4 linked regions of the Homo sapiens genome follow. The protein of the gene in region 2 purifies or fractionates together with the protein of the main gene of each other region. This does not show direct contact. Each region holds a gene or a part of one and is shown on either strand. Other genes may lie near its edges.

Evidence for each region.
Region 1: the proteins of FOSL2 (region 2) and ANKRD17 purify together in Homo sapiens (affinity purification with mass spectrometry; 4 studies listed by BioGRID and IntAct, with this or other methods). This does not show direct contact.
Region 3: the proteins of FOSL2 (region 2) and STK40 purify together in Homo sapiens (affinity purification with mass spectrometry; 4 studies listed by BioGRID and IntAct, with this or other methods). This does not show direct contact.
Region 4: the proteins of FOSL2 (region 2) and COP1 purify together in Homo sapiens (affinity purification with mass spectrometry; 5 studies listed by BioGRID and IntAct, with this or other methods). This does not show direct contact.

What each region holds. Positions count from the first base shown.
Region 1 is NC_000004.12:73,087,674-73,094,938, forward strand, and holds part of ANKRD17 (ankyrin repeat domain-containing protein 17), read right to left. Parts: intron 6,556-7,265; coding exon 6,406-6,555; intron 4,628-6,405; coding exon 2,994-4,627; intron 1-2,993.
Region 2 is NC_000002.12:28,409,649-28,416,913, reverse strand, and holds part of FOSL2 (fos-related antigen 2), read right to left. Parts: intron 6,442-7,265; coding exon of another isoform or gene 6,339-6,441; intron 5,036-6,338; coding exon of another isoform or gene 4,985-5,035; coding exon 4,466-4,984; 3' UTR 1-4,465.
Region 3 is NC_000001.11:36,382,849-36,390,140, forward strand, and holds the start of STK40 (serine/threonine-protein kinase 40), read right to left. Parts: upstream 3,077-7,292; 5' UTR 2,875-3,076; intron 1-2,874. UniProt on the Homo sapiens protein: May be a negative regulator of NF-kappa-B and p53-mediated gene transcription.
Region 4 is NC_000001.11:176,204,279-176,211,679, forward strand, and holds the start of COP1 (E3 ubiquitin-protein ligase COP1), read right to left. Parts: upstream 3,009-7,401; 5' UTR 2,701-3,008; coding exon 2,294-2,700; intron 1-2,293. UniProt on the Homo sapiens protein: E3 ubiquitin-protein ligase that mediates ubiquitination and subsequent proteasomal degradation of target proteins.

The sequences.
Region 1 (7,265 bases), on a different chromosome or scaffold from region 2:
CATTTTATGTTGGGTGTTATTATCAAATTCATCCTCATTTTATTGGGTGCAGTAATAGTGGCATAGCTGTGAAGGCAAACATTGTGAAGATCCATATCAAAGTATTTAGGGGTAAAGTATCATGTTTGAAAGTTATCTTCTCATGATTTGACAAAAGATGGGGAAGAAAAGAAAATAGAGATAGGATAGAAAGGGGGAAAAGGAGGAAAGAAGGATGAAGAAGGGGAGAGACAGGTAAGACAAGACAAGAGAGGGGGAAGAAAAGGAAGCAGCAAAAGAGAGGAAAAAAAAGGAGGGAAGAAGGAAAAGGGGAGAGAGGAAGGGAGGGGAGTGAGGGAGAGAGTTTGAAAAGATGTTAACAAGCAGAGAATATATTAATAAATGTGGAAATACCAAGTATTTACTATGCTGCTTATTCTGTCCTTAGATCTTTATGTGACTTAAATAACTTTTCAAAATACAAACTATAAAAACAGATCTGAGTCTAAAATACAAATAATCAAATTATTTACATAAGAAAAGTTAAACAAAGGAAGAAAAATATGGAACACAAAATGAATTAGGAAGAAGTAGAGAGAAGTGAAAATTAGGATCTGAGAGAGGTTTAGGAGAAAATAAAAGGACATACTTCCTATGTAATAAAAGGAGTATCTTTAACTCAAAATGACCTGAATTAGGTAATTGACTTGTAAGTTAAACTTCAATGCTAATTTTGGCTCTCATCAACTATACACTCCCTAAAAACCTCACCTTTCTTACAGAGGTCTTTCTTCTATACCTTTTCAAAAAATAGGAATTTATTTTTTTGTTCTCTAAAGCTTAATTTTAGCCTTTCTGAATCCCACACCTAGATTATCACATTTTTGGAAAGGTAAAGTATTAAATTCCAACTACTATAAAAATCAAACTTAAAGCATTTCCTACGCACTGGCACATAATGATCTAAAATCTAATTATATTGATTCTATTGTTTTAATATAAAATAAATTATTTTTCATAGTACACATAAATATTTCAGTTGACTTTTAGCAAAGAATATTTACTGACCACCTTCATTAAATTTTATTTACATGTTACAGAAATAGGTAAAAATAACATTGAGTTCCCATTAAACTTGGAAATTTTTGTCCCGGAATGTCATATTTCCAATAACACAGATAACGAGTTGGCAACCAAGAGCCAAATACCAAATATTTTAGGCTTTGCAGGTCACATGGTCTCTGTCCCAGCTACTCAATTCTGTCATTGTAGCATAAAAGTAGCCTTATACAATATGCAAATGAATGGGCATTGCTGTGTTTCAGTAAAGCTTTCTCTACAAACACTGAAATTAAAATTTCATATTTTGTGTTGCATGTTTATTCTTTTTAAATTTTTTTTTTTTTTTTTGAGACAGGGTCTCCACCCAGGCTGGAATGCAGAGGTGTGATCTCAGCTCACTGTAACATCTGCCTCTAGGGCTCAAGTCATCCTTCCACCTCAGCCCCCCAAGTAGCTGGGACTACAGGTATGCACCACCATGCCCAGCTAATTTTTATATTTTTGTAGAGATGGGGTCTCCCCTTAAGCCCAGGCTGGTCTGGAACTCCTGGGCTTAAGCAATCGACCCACCTCAGCCTCCCAAAGTGCTGGGATTACGGGCACAAGCCACCGTGCCAAGCCTATTCTTAAAAAAAAAAATTTTTTTTTAAACATTTAAGAAATGTAAAAACAGGCAGCAGGCCAAATTTGGCCCATAGACCATAGTGTGTCCATCTCTTACGTGGACTATCTTTAATTACTTGAAATGCTTATATTAAAACCCAACAGCTTTAAATGGAAACTGGCATCCTGGATTAGATCCTACAATAGAAAAAGGATATTACTTGAAAAACTTGTGAAATCTGCCTAAAATCTGTAGTCTAGTTAGTAGTACTACACCAATATTAATTTTTTTAGTTTCGAAATGTATCATGGTTATGTAAGATGGTCACATGAAGGGAAGCTGAGGAATTATAGAATTCTTCTATAAATCTAAAAATATTTTAAAGTAAAAAGTTTTTTTTAAAAAAGCAATAGCTTACAATCAGGAGATCTTTGTATCTTCTACATATATCAGTGTTGCCCAGTAGAATTTTGGATAATAGAAATGTTCTAGATCTTTGCTGTCCAATATGGTAGCTACCAGCCACAAGTGTTTTTTAAGCACTTAAATATGGGTAGCCTAAGAAGCTAATTTTTTTATTTTTAAAATTTTCATTAATTTAAATTTAAAAAGTACACATGGTTATTGGCTACCATATCAGACTGTGTAGCTCTATTTTTAAAATTATTTTAGAAATAAAAAAGATAATGCGAAATGAAACCCAATTTTTTAAATCTGTTATTTTGTATTTGTAATAAATGTAAACTTTTGGTGACAGTACCTTATTAAATTAAAACATGAAAGACTTCTGAGAGAGAAAAACACGCCTAGGCCAGGAACTGTGGCTCACGCCTGTAATCCTAGCACTTTGGGAGGCCAAGGTGGGTGAATCACCTGAGGTTGAGAGTTCGAGACCAGCTTGGTCAACATGGTGAAACCCCATCTCTACTAAAAATACAAAAATCAGCCAGGCATGGTGGTGCACGTCTGTAATCCCAGCTACTCGGGAGGCTGAGGCAGGAGAATCACTTGAATCTGGGAGGCAGAGGTTGCGGTGAGCTGAGATCATGCCACTGCACTCCAGCCTGGGTGACAGAGCGAGACTCTGTCTCAAAAAGCAAACAAACAAAAAAACCCCGCCTGATCAGAAGACTTATTTATGGAAAATTAAATAAAAATCTATGGTAGCTTTTAAAAAGATTTTTAAAAATAACACCATACTAAACACAAACAACAGCATCTGAGTTAACTAAATCCAACAATCTTTGTCTATATCGTCCAGAGAATAAAAATATTAGAAAATGACCAAGAATTTTCACATCACTTGTGCAAATGAACAGCTGCAGAATCTCAGAAAATATAAACTCACCTGAGGGACTTGGAGCAGGTCTCTGTAATGGTGGTCTAAAACCTGGAGCTTTGGAAGTATCAGACTGATGTAAAGGATCTGAATTTGGCAAATATGAGGATTTTCCTGATAGCATAGATTCTGGTGTTGACTGAGATGAAACAACAGATCCTCCCCAGAAGGCATGAGCAGAAGTAGGGCTGTTTTCAAACAATGTGCTAAAGGGCCCAAATGGTAAGGGGGCACTGAAATTGGGAGCAATAGGCTTATTTGCTGGATGTACTGAATTCTGACAAGCACTTTGTGTACTTAAGGTCGAAGGTAGCTGGACAGAAGAGGGAACACTGTGAGGTCTTTTAATGTGATTGACACTGAGGACTGCAACAGATGAATTTTGCACTGAAGCTGAATTCTTGTGAGGGGCAGTTGTGCCATGAGGGGGTGGTCTAATAGCAGGGGTTTCCATTTTAGGAGTAGGCTGGGGGCATCCCATTGGTGTCTGAGGCATAGGGTAAGTCACTGGGGCAGTAGAAGGCACCGCCACTGGAGCAGAACTTGTTGCTAAAGGAGGAACAGTCATTCTAACTTCCGGGGGAGGAACCTGAGACTGCTGAAGAGGTGGTCTTGGTTCCTGAGAAACAGATCCCGGAGGTTGTTGCTGATTAGAATGAGCTGATGAACTCCCAGAAGAACTGCTGCTGTTTGGAGGTCTAGTGTTTGTTGTTTCTACTACTGGTGGACTACCTGCTTCCTGTTCGGAGGAAGATGCCACTTTATTTGGAGATGCTGATCCACAATCCAAAGGGCTGTTTCTAGAAACCCCTCCTGGCTGGGCTGGTGGTGATGGGGAAGATGGGGATGATACTGGATAGTGTTCTTTGGCAGTAGGCATAGGATATGTGGCATTTGTGGGTGCAGTGTTGTTGTTGCTTGCCGTGGTTGTGACTGTTGTTGTGGTGGCATTGGATGTCTTCACAACTGTGACAAAAAGCTGCCTTCGGACAGAAGGTGAACTTGGACTGCCATTTGTAGATGTACCAGGCACCGTTGAAGCTGATGAACTGGTTGTAGTTGTTGGGCTTGAAGTTAAAGAACCTGCTGAATTCACCTGAGAACCACTGCTATTCTGATTGCTATGGCGAGGCACCATGTGAGGCTTAGGCGAGTTAGTAGCTCTGGCAGGGCTCAAAGGCCTGACAGGAAACGGACCCCAAGTGGATTGAGCTGGTGGAAAAGTACCTCCAAAGTGGGTCATGGGCAACCTTGGTGGACGGATCTGCTGGAAAGTCTGAGCAGCAAGCAAAGCATGTGCAAACTGTGGAGGAGGATATGCTAATGGAAGAGAAACTGGAAAACCAGGCCTCACATTATTCACTGGGTTCTTAATGGTTTTGTGAGTGGATGCAGAAGAAATTGCAGGCACAGTGAGTGCTGTGGCAGTTTGAGATGTTGATGACAGAGCTACAGTTGTCATTTTAATTCCCATTAAGGAAGTGTTAGCAGCAGTGGTGGTAGGTGCTGATGACCCTATTTTGGAATTTGCTGAGGAGCTTTTCAAACGATTCTTTGGAATAAGTTCATCAATTTCTTTGTCTGGATCCTTGATCAAAGCATTAATCAATTGAGTTGCTTGTCTTGTTGATTCAGTGCCACCCCTATAAATTGAGAAAAAAAAATTAGGTAGAATTTTCCCTACTTTTGAGTATGTAAAGTGTTTTTAATATGTATTTATGTACACAAACACACACACAGTTTTGTGTGTATATACATACACACATACAAACAAAGGACAGATAACAAAAGCTGGGCAGCAATTTTCTTACCATTCCTGAGGTATTCTACAAACAAAGCAATAAACTGTCCTGAATTACTACTTTTATTTTTCAGAAGAATAGTAAATGACTTATTTTTCAAAAATACATTTCACTATTGTTTCCTTAGACTAAGAAACCATTTTCCTACTGTAAAATACACTACAGTTAGAAAAACCACTGCACATAAAAGCCTATGTAATCCACAATGTTATTGAAACATTTAATCCTAAAAATATTGAAACAGTTAATCAACACTAAAAATAATAGAAGTAAACAAGGAAAATAATACAACTGAGTAAGAAAACAGTATTTTATTTTAAATCTTGGTATCTGGGATGACTCCGTCTACTAAAAATTCATTAGTAGTTTGTCTATTAATAGGATAATTATTGTAACTCCTCTGGGAAGATGTCTTAAAATGATGCAGGAATCCTGATAGTGCCAAAAATAGCCATATAAAACCTTAGTGCTGGATCTTCAGGAAAATATTTGATATTTATGGAAACTCAAGGGAGCAATTACCAATAAAGGGTATCTGGTTCCCTCTTTTCTAGATAAGATAGGCTGTGACTACCCAAATACCCAGGGGAAAACCAGTCAGAAGGAGAGGACGATGAATAAAATAGAGATGGCTACTTGCTTTCTTATTTTTGAGGTATGATGTAACTATTAGCTCTCCTATATAATGCAAAGGGGCATCTGCCTCATACAAACTTATATCTGCCATGTAAAAAATATAAAACTCTTTTTCAAAGGAACATGAATTTACTTTAAAGTAATTAAATATAGCTTCCTACATTCTTATGATTTCTTAGAACATCACTTTTATTTTAAGAATATTCAGGCATAGACATATTCGACGAGTTATTCAAGATAAGTTATATCTTCACTTCAGATTCAAATCTGAACTCAAATTCTTTTTTTTTTTTTTTTTTTTGAGGGAGTTTCACTCTTGTTGCCCAGGCTGGAGTCCAATGGCTCGATCTCGGCTCACCGCAACCTCTGCCTCCCAGGTTCAAGCAATTCTCCTGCCTCAGCCTCCCGAGTAGCTGAGATTACAAGCATGCACCACTATGCCCGGCTAATTTTGTATTTTTAGTAGAGACGGGGTTTCCCCATGTTGAGGCTGGTCTCGAACTCCTGACCTCAGGTGATCCGCCCGCCTCAGCCTCCCAAAGTGCTGGGATTACAGGCGTGAGCCACCGTGCCCAGCCCAAGAACTCAAATTCTAAAGACACAATCTCAGAATAACAAATCTCAAAGGTTATTTGAGAAAGACAAAAACCCACTGCTTAAAATGTTAGAAATGCGCTCCCTAAAAGTCTCAGAACAAATTTTTAAGAATGTCATATAAACAGTTTATGTACAGAAATTATTTATTTAAACCTTTGCTACACATGCATACAAATTCCTATAAAAGTCTCTGAAACACTTCACAAAAGTGTATTACCTAGGAAAAAAGAAAACTATAAAATTTATCTTCTCAAACACTAATAAAATTCCCATTTTAAAAAGTATACTATGTAACACAAAGTTCCACTGAAAACTCATATGGCTGTATTTCATTAAGCTATAGTGCAATAAAATAAAGGAAGAAAATGTAAGAGACAAAGTTTTGCCTTATAGTGATTATCCGGTCTCCAGTCTTGTCTTTCTGTTTATCAATATCTATGTGTGCACCAGTAAACTCCCGAATAGCATTGATATTACAGCCTCCTCTTCCAATCACTCTGGATATCACAGTTGATGGAACAGATACTTTCTTTGACCTGTTTAAAAGTTGTATATATAAATTAAGATTAGTCATTAACAATAGTTATTGTAATTTTTAAAAGAGGAAAGAGTATTACTAAAATGTCTTTCTATAAATACAGAATATTGTTGAATAAGCCTCTTCTATTTACTCTTACTCTAGATGAACAGAGAAAAGGCAATCAGGAGCAACAGACAGATAAGCTTTATTATAGCTTCTCATCTCACTATCAAAGATTGTTTGCTTTGTTGATTATCATTCTTCACTTGTATCGGTAAAGCACATACTATGTAGACACGTGCTGTGCTAATGCAAATACTAACGGTAAATAAGACAGACATGGGTTTCTGCCCACATATATTGACTATCTACACGCTAATTATGAAAACACCACCATGTCATGAGTGTTGCAATAGTATGTGTGTACACACACACAAATGTATTATATATACATATATGTATATATAGACATATATATGTATATACGTATAATATATACATGTATATATGTGTATATATATATATTATATGTGTGTGTGTATATATACTGGTTGGGCATCTAATCTAGCCTCAAGAGTCAAGAAAGACTTCTTGTGGGCCCCTTTTGGTGCTTTACTCATATGCTTCTTTTTATTCTCTAATATACATAACTCAAAGAGTGATGTTAAAAATTCATGACTGGGAGTGGTGGCTCATGCCTGTAATCCCAGCACTTTGGGAGGCCAA
Region 2 (7,265 bases):
TATGAACCATATACAACTTGTTTGCCTCCAGAGTCTTACAGCTGACTTTACTCCACGTCATTAACATATCTCAAATACAGATGCACAAAGCTTATTTTCTACTATACACCAAAATACTATATATATACACATCTCCCACGGCAGAAAAGACACCCTGATACCCTACTCTTTACACAAAGTCAAATATTTTCTTCCTCAAAATCAAGTAAACACAAACTAAAATAAATGGAATAAACTTTTAATCATACAGAGAAAATAATTTTTGAGAATCAGGACAGGATCTTCCACTGTGTTCTCTTACAATGTAGATGTCTTGGCGACCACTGTCCCCAGAGGAATGAAAATCCACCTTTAAAAACAGAACCTTTTATACAGTTTATACAGCACAAATCACAAATCACTTTAGAAACAAAAATGTGTTATCCTAAATTTAAAAAAAAAAAAAAAAAGGAAGCGAGAAGAGAGAGAGGAACGGAGTATTTTAATGCTATCAGTTTCTATTCAGGCTTGATACAACATAAAGAAGATGTAAACATTTAAAATAAATAATAAAATAAATGTCAATTTCTTCTCCCCCTCCCTTTCCCATAACCCTCTCAAAATTTGATCCAGCCCCTCCTGAACATGTCGTCAAGCATTGGATAAATTAAACCCCTTGGTTGATGTATGGCCAAAACACTAGAAGCATAAGAAGATGCCAGATTCATAGTGGGATGACTGGGTTTCCTTTTAAAAAGCTACAGGACACAGGCACGCCTGGAAATGTATACACACATGCGCACACACACAGCCCAACCTGTCAATAAATAGTGAGATGCTGGCTTTTAATATGAATGCCAAAACAACTCAACAAGCAGAAGGTAGCAAAGACTCCTTAAGTTTTTTAAAGAAAATTCACACATCACATATTCTATTGGTCCCCAAATTCTCTAAGGACTTGGGTTACCCCTCTGACCATCTGAGGAGTGCACGGGAGCACATGGTGGGGTAGAAGGAGAAGTATGGAGTGGGAGAATATTGTAGGGGATAAGTCCTTGAGAACAAACATCAGACTGAAGGCAATCTTACCTTGGATCTTGAAGACAGACCTTCTCACCTCTAAGTGTTTCTGTTTATCCATTACTTAGGGGCCTTTTATAAAGAGATGTCCTCATCCCTTAGTCTCATCCTAACGAGGATCTATATAAAAGCGCCTAACACAGTGCCTGGCACATCGTAGGTGTATTCTTTTCCTTCCTAAAGGGGGCACAAAGATGTCTGATCAGGAAAGGAAATCGACCTGAAAGTTAAATGGCGAGATTGCATTTGCACTGTTGGTCCATCAAGGAAAAGAGAAAAAAAGTCCCAGTGCTCCAGACAATTCAACCACACTTGGAATCAAGTGAGAGGAGAGGGAGATTCCTTTCCCCAGAGCCTGAGAAACAGAAGCAGCAGCCCCAGATGGCTTTTGACTTTGAGATGCTTGTGTGACACACCTGGCCCCCAACACAGGCAGAATGATGTTTGACTCTGAAAACCTCCCCAGTGAATTATCTGCTTGGAGCCGGCTCCAGCAATTTCCTAAGCCTCAGCCGGGATCGCCTCTCCTTCCTGTGCCAGCAGCTTCCCCCATTCAACTGGCCAGGGAGAGGACTATTCGCAGAAAGACTGGCCAGGAGGCCAAGAAGACGGTGTGTTTTACACGAGCTGATCAGAGCGCCCGCCCTGTGCCGTCCCAGAGCTGCCTGCAGCCCAATCGGAGTCCACACCTCCGAGCTGCCTCGCGAGTGGAGCCACAAGAAGCACAGAAGTTCCTAAGCCAAACAGAAAGGCAGCCCCAATGCAGCTGTTCCCATAGCTGGAGCCATGGAGGTGTCTGGTGATTCTGGAGCAAGGGTGTGTGTGTGTATGAGAGAGAGAACTTGGAGGGCAAGCCATAAGGAAGTAAAACTCAGGATATGCTCACGACTTAGGTGTGAATATTCAGTCTTCCCCAAATCAAATCACCTCTGACTTTGGGGAAGCTGAACGACCTCCTATGACAAAGCCTGGGGGTCTTCACAGGGCACGTAGCTCAGAGTCCTCTTACAGTCCTGTGTGTTGGCTGGACGTTTGCCTTCTGCTGGTCCCAACACCAACACAGCTTGAAATCTGAACTGAAGCCAAGTTGTGCCTCAGGAATTTGTCCAGCCTGGCCACAAATCAGGCTGTGACCTGCACGGGGATCTTTGCTGCACAAAGTGGGGTATAAGGGGGCTTTTAGAAATAAAAGACAAGAAAGCAGCTTCATTTAAGAAATATCTATATGCACAAAAAAGAAAATAGCTCCCACTTGGCTACAAATACCACTTGAGATGATTACCCCTGTGAGAGCTGAGTGCACCCCAGTTTTCTTTGCCCATCTCCTGCTACTCCTGGCTCATTCTGCTGCTTGGATTCATCTCAAGCCAGAAACCCAACTGCCCAATCTTCTTAGAAGGGTCCCTCCCAGAGCCCCTGGGAAATCGGGAGAGGGGCATCACAGCCAAGGGATGCAGGAAATAACATTTTTAAAGTATTTTAAACAAAATCCTTTTTCTTTGAAACCCTCCTTTCTGCATCACTTGTACAGGTCACTTCCAGTCCCACTGGCCCATGTACTTTAAGCATACGGCTGTTCCACTCTGTGTGTCTAGTGCACGAAAACAGGTCATGTTCATGAAATAACATGCGAGGGAACAGCTGTGTGAATGTGTCACTGCTTTCTCCACGGGGGATCTTAATTATCTTTCAAACGAGGATACTGTGACCTCTAGAGCTGAATCCCCAGCAGCAGAGTCTTTGCAGAGCACAAGCCCCGCAGAGGCTGGTTCTGGCCAGGAGCTACTCCCTGGATTCCTGTCAAGGCCCTGCTGGACAAGAAACTCAGCAGGAGCCATACCCTGGGGAGAAAAGGCTCAGAGGGGTGGGCAGCAGGGACCCTGCTGAGCTGTGCTCCTGCTGGAGGCCAGGGGGACCCTTCCCCAACCCCGTGAAAGGGGGCAGCTCTCCTGCAGTGGGAAGCAAAACATCCTATCTCCAATTCCAGCAGCCAGAAAGATTCAACAGACAACCAGGAATGGCGCATGAGCCACAAGCCACAGCGACAGCTCAGGCCAGCTGTTCACAGCTTGCTTGCTGCCTGGGCCAGAAGAGTGCACTGGGGTGGGGACAGGGGAGTGTAAAAGAGAAAGCACTTGATCCAGCAGGTGGCAGATGACCACAGAGGGCAGGAAAGGCCCGGTGCCCTGCGGGGAGGTGAGCAGCCAGGACAGGCTGAGCGGGTGCTGGGGCAGCAGCTGCTGCAGACGCCACTCCAGTGACGGCCTCCCGCCTCCCTCCCCTGCCTCTCCATCCTCAGCAAATGCTTCTTTGAGGCTTGGGGAGGGGCTGCCTGGCAGCATCTGGGGAAGGTCCAGGCCCACGCTCATTAAATCTCTGTGGGTGGCGTCACCCTGAGAGCCAGGGTGGGGGAAAGGCGGAGCCCGGCAGGGACTTGGAGTATAATGTGTGGCTCCTAGGGAGGGACGCCTCCCTGGTCCGGAGAGAAGGGTCCAGGGGCAGAATGGCAAGGCAGTAATTACAGGAGACGCCCTACTCAAGACACCAGGTGAAGGGAAGCTGGCTAGGACACCCGTGTGGCTTTGTTGGCATGCTTCCTGGCCTGGTAATTAGGCGTTTGGCAAACCCAACCTGTGCCCCACTGTCTCACTCACACCCTGTCTTCTGGCCAAGCCGTTCCTCCAGAAGCCGTCTCCGAAGGTGGGCAGGAAGGGTCCTCTGAGCCTCCCAGTGATGGCAGCATCTCCTTGAGAGCTCAGGGAGCCCCGCTGGGAGTTCTGGAGATGATGACTGGGAGGCGTCAGGGTAGGGAAGGCTCTGTATTGCACTTTGTCCCCTTCTGGACAAGTCAGCCCCAGCAGAAGAGCCACCTGCTGCCCCATCTCCAGAAATGAAGAGCTTTAATATTCAGACCACCCAGATGAAATGTCATGGCAAATTTGATAAAAACCAAGAGGGAGTGAAACTGACGCTGGGGGAGGAAAGGGTCAAGTCGAGGGAAGGTGAAACCAAAAGGCACTGAGCATGCGTGGTGGGGCAGGGAAGGACACCATCACTCCAGAGACAGTATGGTAACAAAGGGACAGGAATGGTCCAGGCCAGCTTCAGGCTCTTCAGAAGCCAGAGAGATGTCCAAGTCTACCAAACCGAGTTCTCCAAGGCTTTTCAAGAAATGGGATTTGCTTGCAAGATGAATGAGGGAGGAGGTCCCATGGCTTCTAAGAGATCAACCCAAGTCTTCCAATACTCACTGCTAAGTCCCACCTGGGTCCCCCAGAGCCAGGAAGCTCCCTGGTGGCAGGTCCCCCTCTTGCCCTCACGGCCCTGGAGCGCTTGAAGGTGCTGGTCCCTGGGAAGGAGGAGCGAGGAGGACCCCCTCCGGAGCTGGGGAGGGAGGTGCACTGGGTTACAGAGCCAGCAGAGTGGGGGAGTTCAAGGAGTCTGATGATTGGTCCCCGCTGCTACTGCTTCTGCGGTGAGCCTTGGAGCAGGATTCGGAGGGAGATGCGGGTGACTCCTGCTCCAGGACGCTAGGATAGGTGAAGACGAGGTTCGAGGTGCCCGGAGTGACAGCAGGTGTGGAGGTCACCACGATGGGGGTGTGCAGGGGCTCCTCACCGTAGAAGCCCCCAGCAATGCTGATGGGCTTGATGACAGAGCGCTGGGCCTTGTCCAGCCCCGCCGACGAGGACGAGGGGCTGTCCTCTTCCAGGGGCTCCTGTTTCACCACTACAGCGCCCACCGAGCCACCCCCACTGCGCATGGGCTGCAGCCCAGGGGCTGGGGGCGATCGGCGCTCCTCGGGGCTAATCTTGCACACTGGGCCGTGAGCCACCAACATGAACTCCAGCTTCTCCTTCTCCTTCTGCAGCTCAGCAATCTCCTTCTGCAGGCCTGACTTCTCCTCCTCCAGCTCCTCTGTCTCCTGCCACGGAAAGAGAGGGATGTGAGGGACAGCAACCTGCCAGGGACCAATCTAGGCAGGAAAGAGAAAACCAGTAATGTTCTCAGACACTGTGAGAGCAGAGGCTCACACACCTAACCACAGACCCCGCTGGTCTGAGTCTCTCAGTCACCTGGAGGCTCAAGATTCCTTTCATTTCCAAAGAAGGAAAGTCAGCTTGGAGAGGGGGTAAGACAACAACTGCAGCTGCCATAACCCAGCACCTACTTTGTGCAGGGCACAGTGTTAAGCATTTCAGAGATGATCTCATTCAATCTTCCAGGAGTTTTTTGGAAGCAGATGTTATCATCGCCCCATTTTGCAGATGAGGAAACTGAGGTTCAGAGGGGTTCTGTTAATTTTCCAAAGTCACCGAGCTAGCAGGTGGGGTAGCCCAGATTTGATTCCCAATGTATCTGACTCCAGGGTCTATGTTCTATGGCCTTGGTGCCAGGACTGCCCCCTCGGTACCCCTGAGGGGTGAGTACTGCAGAGATCTGCATGGAGAAGGGGGTACGGAACACAGCTCTACCCACCTCTCTCCTTCTCTTACTCCCCAACCCCATGCCAGCCCACCTGTGGATGGATAAACGCTAAGCCCTAGGCTGCTAGAGAGTGGAGACTTTGTCATGCACACTCCTGTATCCCTAGCACCTAGAACAGTGCCTGGCTTCTCAGAAGTGCTCAGCAAATCCCTGTGGGATTATCACAGCCTCTCCTCCTCCCTTTTTTCACTCCAATTTCTTTCTTTTTTTTTTTTTTGAGACAGAGTCTCACTCTGTCTTACCCAGGCTGGAGTGCAGTGGCATGACCTTGGCTCACTGCAGCCTCTGCCTCCCGGGTTCAAGCTATTCTCCAGTCTCAGCCTCCCGAGTAGCTGAGACTACAGGCACCTGCCACCACACCCGGCTAATTTTGTATTTTTCATAGAGATGGGGTTTCACCACATCGACCAGGCTGGTCTTGAACTTCTGACCTCAGGTGATCCACCCGCCTCAGCCTCCCAAAGTGCTGGGATTACAGGCATGAGCCACGGCGCCTGGCCTTTTGCTCCAATTTCTTAAGCACATATTTCAGGACTCCCAGAACCCTCAGAGAACATTTGGTTCAGCCACCACGCTTGACACAGAAGTAACGTGACAGCCCGAGAGGGCCTGTGAGGATGCCAGGGTCACCCCGCAAGGACCTCAGCCCCCTTCTTTCATCCCCAGCCAGAGAAGCAGAAGCGAGCAAGTGCACGTGGAGGGGCCGCTGTGGGAGGGGAAGAGGTGTGTGTCACCAGCCTCCTCCCCACGTTTTCCCTAACATGGATTCCTGTTCATCAGTGAGGACATACGGGCAAGGGCTTCGTTCAGCAGAGGACAGCATATTCCGGAGTGAAAAACAGTTTCCGTCTGTCTCAAGGGTCTGACGAACGTCATGAGCTTCTGAGAGGCTTCCTGTGGAGGATGTGGCTCAGGGGCCTGGGTGGCTGGGTCAGAGGGCGGGGGAGGTGGGGGAGGCAGGGGAGTAGGGTGTGAGGCCTCTGGGAGGAGGGAAGGAAAGTAGAGGAGCCTCAGGGGGCAGGGCTATTCCGGGGCGGGTGGTGAGGAGCGCCACATGGGGCACAGCTCCTTGAAGTGCCAATCACAGAAAGGTTAGTGGTGGGAGGGCCCGCTGAGGAAGTGGATTGTGGATCTGCCTCACCTGGGAATGAAGAATTCCCACTCATCCTCCCCGGCTCTAACACCTCCGAGGGCCATTACTACAGGCATCACAGAATTCACGCAATTCAATTCATTCAACACCCCAGAGTGAGGGCTGCAGGACAGAGAAAGACAAGCCTAAGTGGGTGGATGGTACCTGGAAACATTAACTCAAGTGAGGGGATGGGCCAGGCGTGGTGGCTCACGCCTGTAATCCCAGCACTCTGAGAGGCCAAGGCAGGCAGATCACCCGAGGTCAGGAGTTCGAGACCAGCCTAGCCAACATGGTGAAACCCTGTCTCTATTAAAAATACAAAAATTAGCCGGGCATGGTGGCAGGCACCTGTAATCCCCGCTAGTTGGGAGGCTGAGGCAGGAGAATGGCTTGAACCCAAGAGGCAGAGGTTGCAGTGAGCTGAGATCGTCCCACTGCACTCCAGCCTGGGCGACAAGAGCGAAACTCCATCTCAAAAAAATTATAATAACAAAAAAAGTGTGAGGGGATGTTTTCCAAAGCCCCATCCTGGGCAGTCACTGTGAGGACCACTGACAGAGTCTCTCTCATCTCCTCACTCTGA
Region 3 (7,292 bases), on a different chromosome or scaffold from region 2:
CCCCATTTTACAGATGAGAAAGCTGTGGTGGAGAGAATAAGTAATCCCTAGTGACCAGCAGGGATAGAAGTAGAACACAGATCTGTCTGATGGCAGAGCCAAATAAGCTTTTTTTTTGAGACAGAGTTTCGCTCTTGTTGCCCAGGCTGGAGTGCAATGATGCAATTTTGGTTCACCGCAACCTCCGCCTCCCAGGTTCAAGAGATTCTCCTGTCTCAGCCTCCTGAGTAGCTGGGATTACAAGCATGCACCACCACGTCCGGCTAATTTTGTATTTTTAGTAGAGAAGGGGTTTCTCCATGTTAGACTGGTCTTGAACTCCTGACCTCAGGTGATCTGCCCACTTCGGCCTCCTAAAGTGCTGGGATTACAGGCGTGAGCCATCATACCCGGCCTCAAATAACCTCTTAACTATTACAATCTACTGCCTTCCCCAAAGGTCAGATTAAAAGCACAAGTTAGCAAACACAGCACCCTTTACAACTGGCCTTCTGAGAGGGCAGTCTTATCTCTCCAGCTGCTCAAGCAACCTACAATCCCAGGAAGAGAGGGGCACATGTGCCAGGCACTTCTGCGCCAGGCAGAGAAGCCCAGGCCAATGCAGGAGCTTGCCATCTGGCACTGGTTGCACATGGTGCTTCCTCAGCAAAGATCCATCGCCCCAGCACCAACTCTCCTCTCTCAGAAGCCTAGGTTTGTCTCCGAAGAGTTCTCCAGCCCTTCAGTCGCTCCTGTCCTCCTCCTTCCCTCCTCTACTGGGACTCCAGTGAAATCTTTCTAAAATATGTAACCAATCATGTCATTCCTCTGCTTCAGACCTTTTCACTTGCTCCCGGCTGCCCTGGGCATGATATCTCAAATTGCTAATATGGCATTCTTTCATGAACCTATACTGCTTCACTTGCACCATATCAACTTCCATACCACTAGATTGAACAATCTGAGATTTCTGGAATAAACTATGAGTTTATTTGTCTATCTCGCTCTCAAAGTATTCATTCTCACCTGGCTAAGCCTCCCCTCCTCTCCTTTTAGACTCAGCTCCAGCATCACTTCTGCCAAGCCTTTTCATGGCACACTCCCGTCCCCACCCCACCCCCAAGGCTGAGCTCACAGCTTTCTCCCTTTCTCCACTGGGCTCCCACAGTACTCTCTTGCTGCTGCTATTAGCTTCTTCTTCTTCTTTTTTTTTTTTTTTTGAGACAGAGTCTCACTCTGTTACTCAGGCTGGAGTGCACTGGCTTGATCTCGGCTCACTGCAACCTCTGCCTCATAGGTTCAAGCAATTCTCCTGCCTCAGCCTCCCGAGTAGCTGGGATTACAGGCCTGTGCCACCATGCCCAGCTAATTTTTCTATTTTCAGTAGAGATGGGGTTTCACCATGTTAGCCAGGCTGGTCTCGAACTCCTGACCTCAGGTGATCCGCCCGCCTCGGCTTCCCAAAGTGTTGGGATTACAGGCATGAGCCACGGCGCCCAGCCACTACTAGCTTCTTTAGACCACATTTCAACCATTTGTTTACAGGTCAATTTCCCTTAATTAGACTGTATGCTCCTTGAAATAAAAATAGATAACATTTATTGAATTCTTATTACGTGGCAAACATGGTTGTATGTTTTACATGTTAACTTTTTACTCTTCATAATATCTCTCTCTGTTATCATCCTTGTTTTATAGACGAAGACACTGAGGCACAGGGAGACTAAGCAATGTGCCCAGGTACACACAGCTGGAAAGTTGCTGAGCCAGAATTTGAACTCAGGAAGTCTGGCTCCAAAGCCTACTCTTAACCACTATGCTGTCTAGCACTTGCCTCTAGGCAAGGACTCTTGTTGTGGTCATGTGAGAAATGAATGAATGAATGAATGAGGACTGTCTAGATTAACCCAACCAACAACTTGCACAGCACGGCCATTAGGAAGCACTAAAGGAGCTCACAGGCACTGTTTACAAACAAGATTATTTTGGCCCTACAATTACACATTCTGCTCTTCCTTATCTCACGCAAAACTACTCAAAGAGGGAAAGGCGCCCAGCCCAGTATGCCTACCCTCTTCCCCACTGGTTCTCAAAACCAAAGCAAAGCCAACCGGTTTCCTCCAGTGACTTAAAACAGAGCAAAGTCTATCCTGCCACACAGAGGGCGGCTGTCATCTCTTCCTTCCGCTAACAAAAGGGCTTCAAACCTGGGGATTGGGGTGGGCAGAAAACTCGGCATCAGGAATCCGAATGTCCCTACCTAACTGGCTGGAAGGCGGGGCCAAGTGGCGTGGGAATGGGCGGGCCTGACCGGCTCGGCAGGTGAAACACTGACCACAGCAAGCTCTCCTTGGAAAAGGCCGGCCAAACGTGGCCTTGGCAAGCAGGTAGCTGTGACTCGTACCTGAACGCCGCCCGGGATATGAAAATTCCCCAGCAGCGGTAGCGCCCGTGCCAGAGTGAGGGCTCTTGGAGGAAGCCCTGGCTGGCCCTCCCTGGGGACTCGTTCTAACTATCAAGTCACCCTCGGGATTAGGAGGGAAACACGGAGAGGCAGAAGGTGTCTTTTTGGAAAGATCTGGCTGGATTCACACGCCGGTTGCTTCACTCACTGGCTGGGTGACTCTAGGCAAAGCTGGCAGTGCCCACTTCCCAGAGCTGCGGCGGGGACTGAAGCTCCCGCGGCCTCCCGGTACCCGGCGCGAGGCAGCCCTCGCCCCTGCCGCCGGGGAAGGGCAGAGCCCCAGCGGAGGAGGGGGCATTCGCCGGGGCCATTTCTGCTGCACTCAGATGGCTTCAGGCTGTCACTCCGATTCCACCGCCGCGGCCGCCGGGGCCCGCCCCGCCTACCCGCAACCCCCACCCGGCTCCCCGCTCCTGGACCCCTGCCCTCACCTTCGCCGGGTGGTCAGAGCTATTCGCCCATAGTCCGTAGCCCAGAGCCGGGGCTGCTCGGCTCTCCCTCCCGGGGGGCCGGGGCCGGGCTGGAGGCGTGCGAGCCTCTCACCGCCGCCTCCCAGCGCAGCCACCCGAGCCGCCGCCGCCGCCGCCGCCGCCTCCCTCCATGGCTGCGGCGCCGCCACCTGACAACGGAAGTGACGCACCGCCCCCCTCCTCCCCAGCCTTAGCCGCGGCCCCGCCCCCCCGGGCCCCGCCCTCCGCCTGCGTCTCCAGCCCCACGGCTTTCGGATTGGGGCGCCATCTTGACGATGGGCGGAAGACTTCAGGCAAGAGGCCAGAGTCCGATTGAGGATTGGTTCAGGGTGGGGTCTGGGCGAAACCTGTTACACGATTGGAGGCCGAGGCTCTAATGGGGCGGTACTTACTGCTGATCTATATCTGCGGCGAGGCTGGGACGGAGGCACCGCCCCGCCCGACCCCACAGAACCTCGCGGGCCCTACACTCCCCCTGCCGAGGTTGAAGTCCCCAGCGGTTGGAAGATCGGCCAATTGTAGTGTATTTATCAGAAAAGTGACTCATCCTTGATCCTCATTTCCCGGTTTGTGGAACTCTGTGAGGAAAGCCCTGCAGTTAGGCTCAATAAAAGACAGAAATTCCTGTCGCAGCGCTCATAATTCATTTCCCTCTAGGTCTGTCGCCTTTGTAGAAACCCCGAGGATGGCAACCTTCAACCTGGAGATCCCTGAAGCCTTGACCAGGGAGGTTTACAGTGAAGCGTTCCTATTAGCGACTACAGCTATCTAACCTCAGTTCCTCCTGCTGCAGTTTCGGTCCCTTTCTCCTCCTCCTCCAGCAACCACGCCCTCCATGAATCAGCTTCTTGCACCAGCAGATGAGCCCTTTAAAGGGATTGCATCAGGCAAGTGACTCACTGGGGCCCTCTAAGAGCCTGGCTTCCCTCCCTTGGCATGCAGAAGCAGCTAGAAGGGCTCAGTGGCAGCAGCACCAGCGGCCGTAGCCCCACTCCCTTGTCCCAGAGGTGTGAGTCAGGGTGTTTGCTGCTTATGATGTCTAACTCTTGGCTGTCTTTCCAGCTGTCCCCTGGGTCACTCTATATCCATGTGTGGGCACACGTGTCTAAGCTTGTGTGCACTGCTGGGTTTTCCTAGGGTGTGTGGCCACTTGTGTGTATGTGCATTTGTCATCTCCACATAGGCAGTGCCAGGACACAAGAGCTGATATGAGTGAAGTCTGGCTGCCTCTACCTGTGTCCTTTGTCTCTGAATGCCTGGTGCCCACTGAGCTGCTGATAGGGCTGACTAACAAGAGTAATCAGGACAGCTCCCACCGTTGTGCCACACTCTGCATGGAGCACTTGAGACAGTATTAGGTAGGAGGCTGTTTACAGCTGAGGAAGCCAGTGCTCAGAGAAGGAAATTAATGTGCCCAAACACACACAGCTAATAATGGCAGGGCTAGGATTCAAATCAAGTCTGATGGATTCCAAAAAACTTGGCTTTGAATCCCTGCTGCATCACTTACAAGCTGGGTGACTATGTGCAAATTGCCCAATCTTCCCCTTCTGTCCAAACAGGGATAACGCTTGGGGGATCACTGTGAGGACTCGGAGTTATAGAAACAGCTTTTTGCAAGACCCAGCGAGCACTCATACTCATCTCAGTTGAAGGGCTTCAATGAGGTGGGTGACCAAAAGACAGGCATAAAGAAGGCCCCAGCCCAGCAAGCTCCACTCTCTGACAAAACAAAAAGCCTAGGGATTCCGGAAGCCCTGACTCTGACAAAAATGAGTTCTGGGTTTTCCAGAGCTCTAATTATCAGCTAGATGAATCACTCTGCGCTGACACCACCATTCCTACCCCCAGGAGACTCTCAGCTGATTGAAAATCCAGGATTTTAACAAAGGAGAGGAGGAGGAACAGAAAGCTAGGAGGAGAAGAAGTAATGAATAGAAACCAAAGGTGCCAGCCAGAGGAAATGAGAAACTGTCATCAGGACACTACCATGAGGAGAACGCTGGGACACACACACACACACACACACACACTCACACTCACGCTGACATACTCTTGCTGGCTCTCCAACTCTAGGCTTACGGCAGACGGTGCTGCCATAACAAAGTGACGCCTGTCACAACAGCATGAGATGGTGGCTTGACAAGGTATAGGCAGATCTGCCTATCACAGAAGGAGGGAAAGAGACCTTCAACCCCCAGGGGCTTCCTCAGGCTTCTGAACCCTCGTCTCCATTACTGGTTGGCTCTGGCTTCTCTTTGTCACCAAATCGCAAGGCCTAAATCTGGCAAATTTTGAGTGTCAGACCTACACCCTGTGGCTAGGTACCACCACTGTGGTGAACAAAGGCACCTCTTATACTCTGTCATCAGTATGATGCCAAGAGTGCTGGGAAACAGAATAGCACAGCAGTTAAGATCATTGAGTTGGAGTCACACAGACCTGAGTTCAAATCCCCATTCTGTTGTTCACCTTGAGCAGGCCACATAACTTCCTTGAGCCGGTTTGCTCAAATGTAAAATGGTGCTATTAATATATGGGGTTTTTATAATGATATAATAAGATTACTTTCAGGGCTGGGCGCAGTGGCTCACTCCTGTAATCCCAGCACTTTGGGAGGCCGAGGTGGGTGGATTGTCTGAGGTCAGGAGTTCGAGACCAGCCTGGCTAACATGGCAAAACCCCGTCTCTACTGAAAATACAAAAATTAGCTGGACGTGGTGGCTGGTGCCTGTAATCCCAGCTACTTGAGAGGCTGAGCAGGGGGAATCACTTGAACCTGGGAGGCAGAGGTCGCAGTGAGCCAAGATCGCACCATTGCACTCCAGCTCAGGCAACAAGAGTGAAACCCCATGTCAAAAAAAAAAAAAAAAGGATTATTTTCATTCCACAAGATTGATGGAGTGCCCACTATGTGCAGAGCACTGAGCTAGATGCTGGAGATTCGGCATAACCAGACAACAGCTCTGCCCTTGTGGAGCATCAGAGCACCCAGCACAGGGCAAGTAGTAAAATTCAACAAAGAGTAGCTATTTTTCATTTATTTTATTTTAGAGACGGGGTCTTGCTGTTGCCTAGGCTGGAGTGCAGTGGCACAATCACAGCTCACTGCACCCTCAAACTCCCAGGCTCAAGAGATCCTCCCACCTCAGCCTCCTGAGTAGCTGGGACTTACAGGTGTGTCCCACCATATCCTGCTAATTTTTAAAAAAATTTTTATAGAGACAGGGTCTCACTGTGTTGCCAGGGCTGGTCTTGAACTCCTGGGCTCAAGTGATCCTCCCACCTCAGCCTCCCAAAGTGCTGGGATTATAGGTGTGAACCACTGCACCTGGCCAGTAGCTATTTTTCATGACCATTATGGTGCCCATCTTGGCACTCTGCCTCTAACTTAGCCATGGGACCTGGGGAGAGCCCCTTTCCCTCTCTGAGCCTCAGTTTCCTCAGCTGTAAAATGACAGAGTTGGACTGGGTCAGTAGCAGCAGTTCCCAACTTTCCCACCTTCAAAGCCTTTTTTAGTCTTTTTCCCTCTGCCTCCACACTATCCAGAATCTGGTGGGACAGTAACACTTTGCATTGTTTTTCATCTTTTCCTTGGTGTTCTCCCTCCTTCTCTTACACAGATAAGTTACTCTGTATTCATTACTTCGGGAAACAAATGATACAACAGAATGCAGGGCCTATTTTTAGCTTCTGAATTCCAAAAGCTTAGCTTTCAGGGAGGAATGGACAGAATTTCTGTGCAGACACACATTTAGAAAACTATAACGGGGATCTGGGAGTCTGAGATTGAGGAGGGGGGTCCCTGAGAAGAGAGAAGCTTCTCCTCAGTCTTGTAACTGGGAATATCATCTGGGTCCAAGGGATTGAGAAGCAGAGAGGAGCTGTGCTCCTTTTCCTGGGTGGGGCACCAGGGAAGTCACAAAACCCTCTGGAGAAATGGCTGCATGCTGCATTTTGGACAAACAGGGCCTAACTCACCTAAGACTCAAGAATTTCCTAGGCCTAACATGGCCTGGGGAAAGCAGAAAAACAAAACAAAACAAAACAAAACTCTGCACACCTGAGAGGGGTATGGGTTACACTTGGAGGGGTCTTTTGGTGGGGGGATGGGGAGCAACTCAGCAGCAACCTTCATGGGCTGATGACAAAAGGTCACAACCAGATGAGAACATCTCAGTGGATGCTAGTGTGACTGGATGACCAAATCAGACTATGCTTCCCATGCTTTGGCACCTTGAAAGGAAGAGCCCTAGAATTCCAACAGAATGCCAAGGAAAATGGGGGAACTGTGAATTGACCGCAATTAACTTTCTGCCACTCTGGCTGAGTAGGGCAAAATACAGGAATTCAAGTGAGTTAAAGAAAATTCAAGTTC
Region 4 (7,401 bases), on a different chromosome or scaffold from region 2:
GGATAAAATAAAACGTGAAGCATAAGCATATCTTTAAAATGTCCCATAAATGAATAAGAAATTATCATTATTTGAACTTGGGCTTCGTTTAAATATAAAAGCATAGAATAATTTGAATTGGTTCACAGTTTGACCTTGGGGCATACAAGACAAGACCCACAGCCAAACGGGGGGAAAAAAAAAGAAAAAAAGGATTCCTTGGGCCTTGCCTAATCCATATCATCCTACCCCAAGAGTCTGGACAAAATCAAACCTGGCTTGAGTTTTAAATCAGATTCTCATTAATTAATTCTTCTGAATATTAAACCTCACCAGAAAAAGAAATAATTAACTAATGAGATTCTTAGAAAGTGAAATACTCAGGACCACGGTGGCTCACACCTGTAATCCCTCCCAGCACCTTGGGAGGCCGAGGCGAGCAGATCACCTGAGGTCAGGAGTTCAAGACCTGCCTGGCCAACATGGTGAAACCCCGTCTCCATTAAAAATACAAAAAATTAGGCAGGTGTGGTGGCAGGTGCCTGTAATCCCAGCTACTACTCGGGAGGCTGAGGCTGGAGAATTGCTTGAACCCGGGAGGCGGGGGTGGCAGTGAGCCAAGACGGTGCCACTGCACTCCAGCCTGAGTGACAGAGCAAGACTCCGTCTCAAATACAAATTTTTACTCTTTTAAAAAAAGAGTTCCCAATTCCCTATAGCATAGCCTGCAGTGCACTGAACTTCATATGGTGCCTGGCCGACAGTGAATGTCATACAAGTATCTCTTGAATGACAATGATCGATTCCTTATTCCTCACATCTTTTACTTTATTTTAGTGTACTTACACGGAGGCTAACATGTTTGTGTTCGTTAAGTATACTAAAAATTAAAATGCAAACAGTGGCTAAAAAGACAACTAAATTATGCACACCCCACTTTGTTTTATTAGCTTATTAGCTACTCGCACTATCGACTGTGTAGAAGTGCAAACACTTCTCAGCCCCAACCATAAACTGCTTATTTATAAATAACAATCATATTACAGCCCAAATGTTCAATGAAAAACAGATTAATTCTGATAAAGAATAACGTACAAAAAAGCAGAAAGGTGAATAAAGACATCATTTTTCTGCAGGAACTAGAAACCGTAAGTCTAATCAATAACTTTCCTAACAGTTCCAACTTCTAGCTCTATCTTATTTAATAACACCAACTCAGACCATCTTCAACCCTGATCTGAATCAACTTCCCTCATAATGACTGTGCAAGCAGCCAACTTCCTACATGCCTAATATTTGATCAACAATTTCCTCAAAAAGGAAAGTACGAAACACTACCACTTCTTAAGCAGCTAGCTAACAGCAATTACTTCTCATAATCCTACCAATATCTAAAATCCAATAAAAATTCCAAAACACTCTCAAGCAAGACAATCAACACCACCTTTCACTTCATATGACTAACCTCTCTATCCCAAATGTCATGACTAAATGTTACTCTGTATCATTCAAGATGCCAACTATGACGACAAAATGTCTATACCTAGCATTTCTCAAGTCAGAAGTTCCAGTATACTCTGTTATCCAGTATAGTACAGTTACATCTGACACAGGGATGTTATTTAACAAACGTGGTTCTCTCTTTTCAAGACACTTGGTGGAGAAGTGAAAAATCTGTTAACAGACTTTGACTACAGTCGTCTCAACAGCCGATTCCTAAGTGGCCCATCCTTTGAAATGGAAGAAGATATTTACACATACATACGATAGGTACTTACATTATTATAAAAAGCATGTCTTTATAAGACATCCATGCTTATGTTTACAGCATCATCTACCATACTTCAAATAAATTTTGACCAACTCCACCCCTCTGCATCCGAGGAAGCTTAGTCCTCTCCATTTGCAAATTTCATTCATCTCAACAAGGACTCCTGATTGACTGAGTGTTCAATTCATCAGAGAGGCAAAAATTTTAAGACTCAACCTCTCTGCCAACTTTGTTATCCAAAACCATTTATTTGACCTTCCACCTCTTCCCTCGTCATTCGTTAAACTCCCTTCACTTCCTCCTCAGCAACACTTACCTACCTCTTTATTATCCCCACCCTGCCTCGCTACTCCAACATTCCTTCACCCCACCAACCAGGAGCTCGAATGCCTGCAAACGCTCGATTCCCTCTGCAGACACCACCACAGCACCAGTATCCCAAGCTCTCCAACAAGCCACCCCCACACCAGACCCCCCGCCCCCAAGCCTAAGCGGCAGAAACTCATAATTTAGGGACAAGGAGGGAGTGCTCTTCAAACCCACCATACGAAGTCGTTGCTTTTGTCCTCGTAGGAGTTGATGAGCCCGTTGCAGAGGGGGGCGAGGAGAGGTCGCTTCCTGCTGCCGCTGCCTAGGCTGGAGCTGCTGCCTCCTACGCCGGCGCTGGGCCTGGCCGCGCAGCTGTGCCGGGACAGGCCCGTGGACACCGCCCCGCCGCCGCTACCCGATACGGCGGGCGCCACCAACACAGGCCGCACCGGGCCCCCGAGGCCGCCCGAGCCGGCGGCCTGGGCCACCCCGCCGGACACCAGCGCTGCCGCCGAAACCGCCACGGAAGGCGGCGACGGGGAAGAGGATAAAGACGAGGAGGCGGAAGTCACCGAGGAGGCCGCCGAGGACCCGGGGCTTGTCCCAGCGGAGCCCGACCCGGCCTGGCGGCTACCAGACATCGTGACTCCCTCCCCTCCAGCCGGGCGCTCGGAGGAGAGGGACCGCGACCTCGACCCTCCGCCGCCTCCCCTCCCCTCAGCCTCAGTGCATCCTGAGGACGCCCGCCGAGCCGGAGGTGGGGCTGAGGAACAATAAAGTTGCGTTTTTTTTTAAGGCAGCCACACAACAGCGTCCCACGGGAGGGGGCGGAGGAAACTAAAAAAGCGGAGTAGAAGGCACTACCGCTGTCGAGGCCGCCGCCGCCACCGCGGTCCCTGTAGCAGCCAACCCCGGCGCGCCGTGGCCGGCCGTGCGCGCGCGCGCGAGCGGCGGAAGAGGCGGGCGTGGCGGGGGATACAACTGGGGACGCAGCGGGGCTGCGCTCAGACGCTCAGGGCGCGCCCTCGGGGTCGGGGCTCCCTGGCGAAGGGAGTCTGTCTGTCCCAAGCCGCTTTCGTTCCAGAAAACGTGCCAGAGGGCAGGCCGTCTTAATACAGTGAAAGAATTGAGGAGACTGGAATGAATGGTATAGGTGGTGGGGTGGTTTGAAAGACGGGAACGTAGCGGGCGGAAACTCTCGAAAAGCGACTGCGCAGGCGCGCGCCGGGCGCGGACGCTCACGGGTCACCCAGGGTATCCGCCCCAAGCGGAGAATATCGGCGCAAGCGCGGAGTAGCCGTGTCACGCATGCGTGCGAACGCACCACATTCCGGAACGGGAAGAAGGAGCTGTCTCTCTCTTCTGAGGGGTAGGCAGGTGCTTCCGAATCGCGGAATGTAGGTGCTCATAAGCTGGAGACCCACGGAAAGAACCTAGAAGCTCCGAGCGGTTGCAGACAGCACTGCATTGAGCCAACGACTCCTGCTCTACTGATGGTGATTCCACAGCTTTGTGAGGAATAAGTTAAGATGAAGTCAGTGAAGTTTTCTGCGAATTGCAAACATTGTAGCAAGTGTTACCAATTTTATTAGTTCGACCACGACTTCACTCCTATATTTTGAAAAGCTGTTTGCCAAATTGAACATAACAATAATGGGAAAACAGATTTTGCTCAATCAGACCCAGCTCAGTCGGAACCTAGGTTTATTGTGGATCTGATATAATTCTAGCACAAAACAAGGAAACCTAGCATTTAATACCACCAGAAAATATACAATTTCTGGTAGGCTTTTTTAGAATATTGAAAATTGATTATAGGCGGGCGCGGTGGCTCATGCCTGTCATCGCAGCACCTTGGGAGGCCTAGGGGGTCGGATCACCTGAGCCTGGAGGTGAGGATCAGGCTGAACCTGAGGTTAGAGACCAGCCTGGGCAAGATAGCGAAACCCCGTCTCTACAAAAAGTACAAAAAATTAGCTGGGCATGGTGGCAGCAGGCCTGTAGTCCCAGCTACTCGGGAGGCTGACATGGGAGGATTGCTTGAGCTGGGGAGGTTGAGGCTGTAGGGAGCGGAGATCCCTACACTCCAGCCTGTGAGACAGAGACCCTGTCTCAAAAAAAAAAATTTTTTTCATTTGCCGCATTCTAAGGGGTGGGAGTTAGAAACAACTGTGTGATTTTATCCTTTTCAATTCTATCATTCTATGATTCTTATATATTTATTTGGGAATAAAGTGTGAAAATACTCATGACTTAGTAAACTACGTGCGTATTCAAGGAGGTAAAGGAAGGCAAAGGTTTTTAAAATTTAAAAAAAAATGAGAATTACATAATTGTTTTTAAACCGTTATCCTTGGCTACGAAGATCAATAACAAGGTGACACCAGTCGGAAACTGGACAGGAAGTTGCTGGGCAGATGTTTTTGCGGAAGTATTTTTTGTGTAAGATTGTGGCTTTTGGCCAGGTGCGGTGGCTGAGGCCCATAATTCCAACACTTTGGGAGGCCAAGGCGAGTGGATCACCTGAGGTCAGGAGTTCGAGACCAGCCTGGCCAACATGACGAAACCCTGTCCCTACTAAAAATACAAAAATTAACCGGGTGTGGTGGCATGCACCTGTAATCCCAACTACTCGAGAGTGTGAGGCAGGAGAATCGCTTGAACCCAGAAAGCGGAGGTTGGAGTGAGCCAAGGTCGTGCCACTGTGCTCCAGCCTGGGCAACAGAGCAAGACTCCATCTCAAAAAAAAAAAAAAGATTGTGGCTTTTGCAGGTTTTTGTGATAGTTTTTGTCATCAGGTGTGCAAGCATGAGACCCCTTCTCTTCATGACCTCTGAATCTATTTTTCAGTGTTTTAAAAAATATATTAGTGACTACCTCCCACCCCCTTTTGTTTAAGAGATGGGGCCCCCCACCCCCTTTTGTTTAAGAGATGGGGCCCCCCACCCCCTTTTGTTTAAGAGATGGGGCCCCCCCACCCCCTTTTGTTTAAGAGATGGGGCCCCCCACCCCCTTTTGTTTAAGAGATGGGGCCCCCCACCCCCTTTTGTTTAAGAGATGGGGCTGGGATGCAGTGACTGTTCACAGGCAAGTCTATAGCACAGTACAGCCCCCAAATTCCTGGGCTCAAGCAATCCTGCTGCCTCAGCCTCCCAAGTAGCTGGAACTGTAGGTGTGTACCACCGAGCCCATATAATTCCATTTTGATTACGACAGCTTTCACGGAAATTAGGCATTAAGTAGGGTAAAAACATTTATAATGTTTTAAAGATTAATTTTTTAGGAGATTAATCTTTCAGAAGAGGTGGGAAATTAGGAACAAAGACTAGGAAAAATTAAAGCAGTTCGAGCGTAAATGATAAGATTCTAGATTAGGATGGTGACAAAGAAAGGGAATATTCTGAGAAAAACACTAAGGAACTGATGGTATAAAGTTTAATTACTCTCTGTAAAACTGTCTTTACCATCCTTGAGAGTATGACCCATATCTGTCATATTCATCACTGTCTATATCAGTGCTTGACACAATGGTCAATATGTTGATTAAGTAAAAATGATGAAACACAAACAGAAATGACTCCAAACATGACTTCTGGGTAACAATAACGTAGTGACAAGATTGGAGGTGTCCAGTAGATGGTTTAGTTTTGAATGTTTTGAATGAGTGTGGGATGAAAAAAACTCAAAGAATAGGCAGTGGTCGAAAACACAGGGTTAAGGCACAGAAGAAAGTTCAGCACATGAGAGACATTTGGAAGTTACTAAGGGCATAGTATATCATCATCAAATAGTTATTATGGACCTATTATTTGCTAAACATATTGCTTCCCCCATGATTCTCAAACATCGGTGCCCAGAAGAATCACCTAGAGAGCTTGTTAAAAACCAGATTTCTGAGCTCCACCTTATGAATATGCATTTGTACCAGCACCCAGGTGAATCTGAGGCAAGTGACTAACACTTTGAAAACACTGTGATTGGCCGGGTGCGGTGGCTCATGCCTGTAATCCCAGTACTTTGAGAGGTTGAGGTAGGTGGGTCACTCGAGGTCAGGAGTTTGAGACCAGCCTGGCTGGCATGGTGAAACCCCGACTCTACTAAAAAAATACAAAAATTAGCTGGGAGTGGTGGCATGCTCCTGTAGTCCCAGCTACTTGGAAGGCTGAGGTAGGAGAATTGCTTGAACCCAAGAAACCCAGGAGGCAGAGGCTGCAGTGAGCTGAGATCGCACCTCTGCACTCCAGCCTGGGCAACAGAGTGAAACTCCGTCTCAAAAAAAAAAAAAAACAAAAAACACAACACTGTCCTGTGATTGATAATGTAGAGAATGTGAAAGAGTTTCCTTCCAGGCCAGGTGCAATGGCTCACGCCTGTAATCCCAGCCCTTTGGGAGGCTGAGGTGGGTGGATCACTCAAGGTCAGGAGTTTGAGAACAACCTGGCCAACATGGTAAAACCCCATCTCTACTAAAAATGTAAAAAATTAGCCAGGCATGGTGGCGCATGCCTGCAATCCCAGCTACTTGGGAGGCTGAGACAGGAGAATGGCTTGAACCCAGGAGGTGGAGGTTGCAGTGAGTCGAGATCGTGCCATTGCACTCCAGCCTGGGCGACAGAGTGAGAGTTTCCTTCCAAGTTGCTTATGCTGAGGACTGCTGTGATTTGAATGTACCCACCAAAACTCAGGTTGAAATGTAATTGCCATTGTAACAGTGTTGAGAGTTGAGACCTTCAAGAGGTCTCATGATTAGGTCATGAGGAGTACTGTTAGTTATTGCAGGAGTGGGTTCCTAATAACTGGATAAGTTTGGCTCCCATCTTGCCTCTCTGTCTCTCATGCTGTCTTGGGCCTTTCACCATGAGGTGACCCTCCCCATATGCAGGCACCGTGCTCTTGGACTTCCCAGGCTCCACAACTGTGAGAAATAAATTTATTTTCTTTATAAATTACCCAGTCTGTTGTATTCTGTTATAGCAGCAGAAAATGGGCTGAGACAGAAAGTAGTATGACCCCAACTGAGAAGTCTCCTAGGGGGAAAGAAAAAAAAATCATCAGTTCTTAGTATTACCTCTTTGGAATGTATTTTTTATAAAATCTAAATTCACAAAAAGAAGCTGAGAGTATGTGATGCAATAGAGCTTCATTTTTGTACCAGATAAATGTACTGGCTGAATACATAATTGTAATGACTGAAAGTACACAGTCCTTATTAATTTCTACTGGCAAGATCTTCTGGGAAAGCAGAAGAAAAAAAGAGGAAGCATGGTGAAACACACACAACACACAAGAAGGAAGACAACTTAGGAGAAGTAACAAATAGGAGAAGAAAACAAGAAAAAATG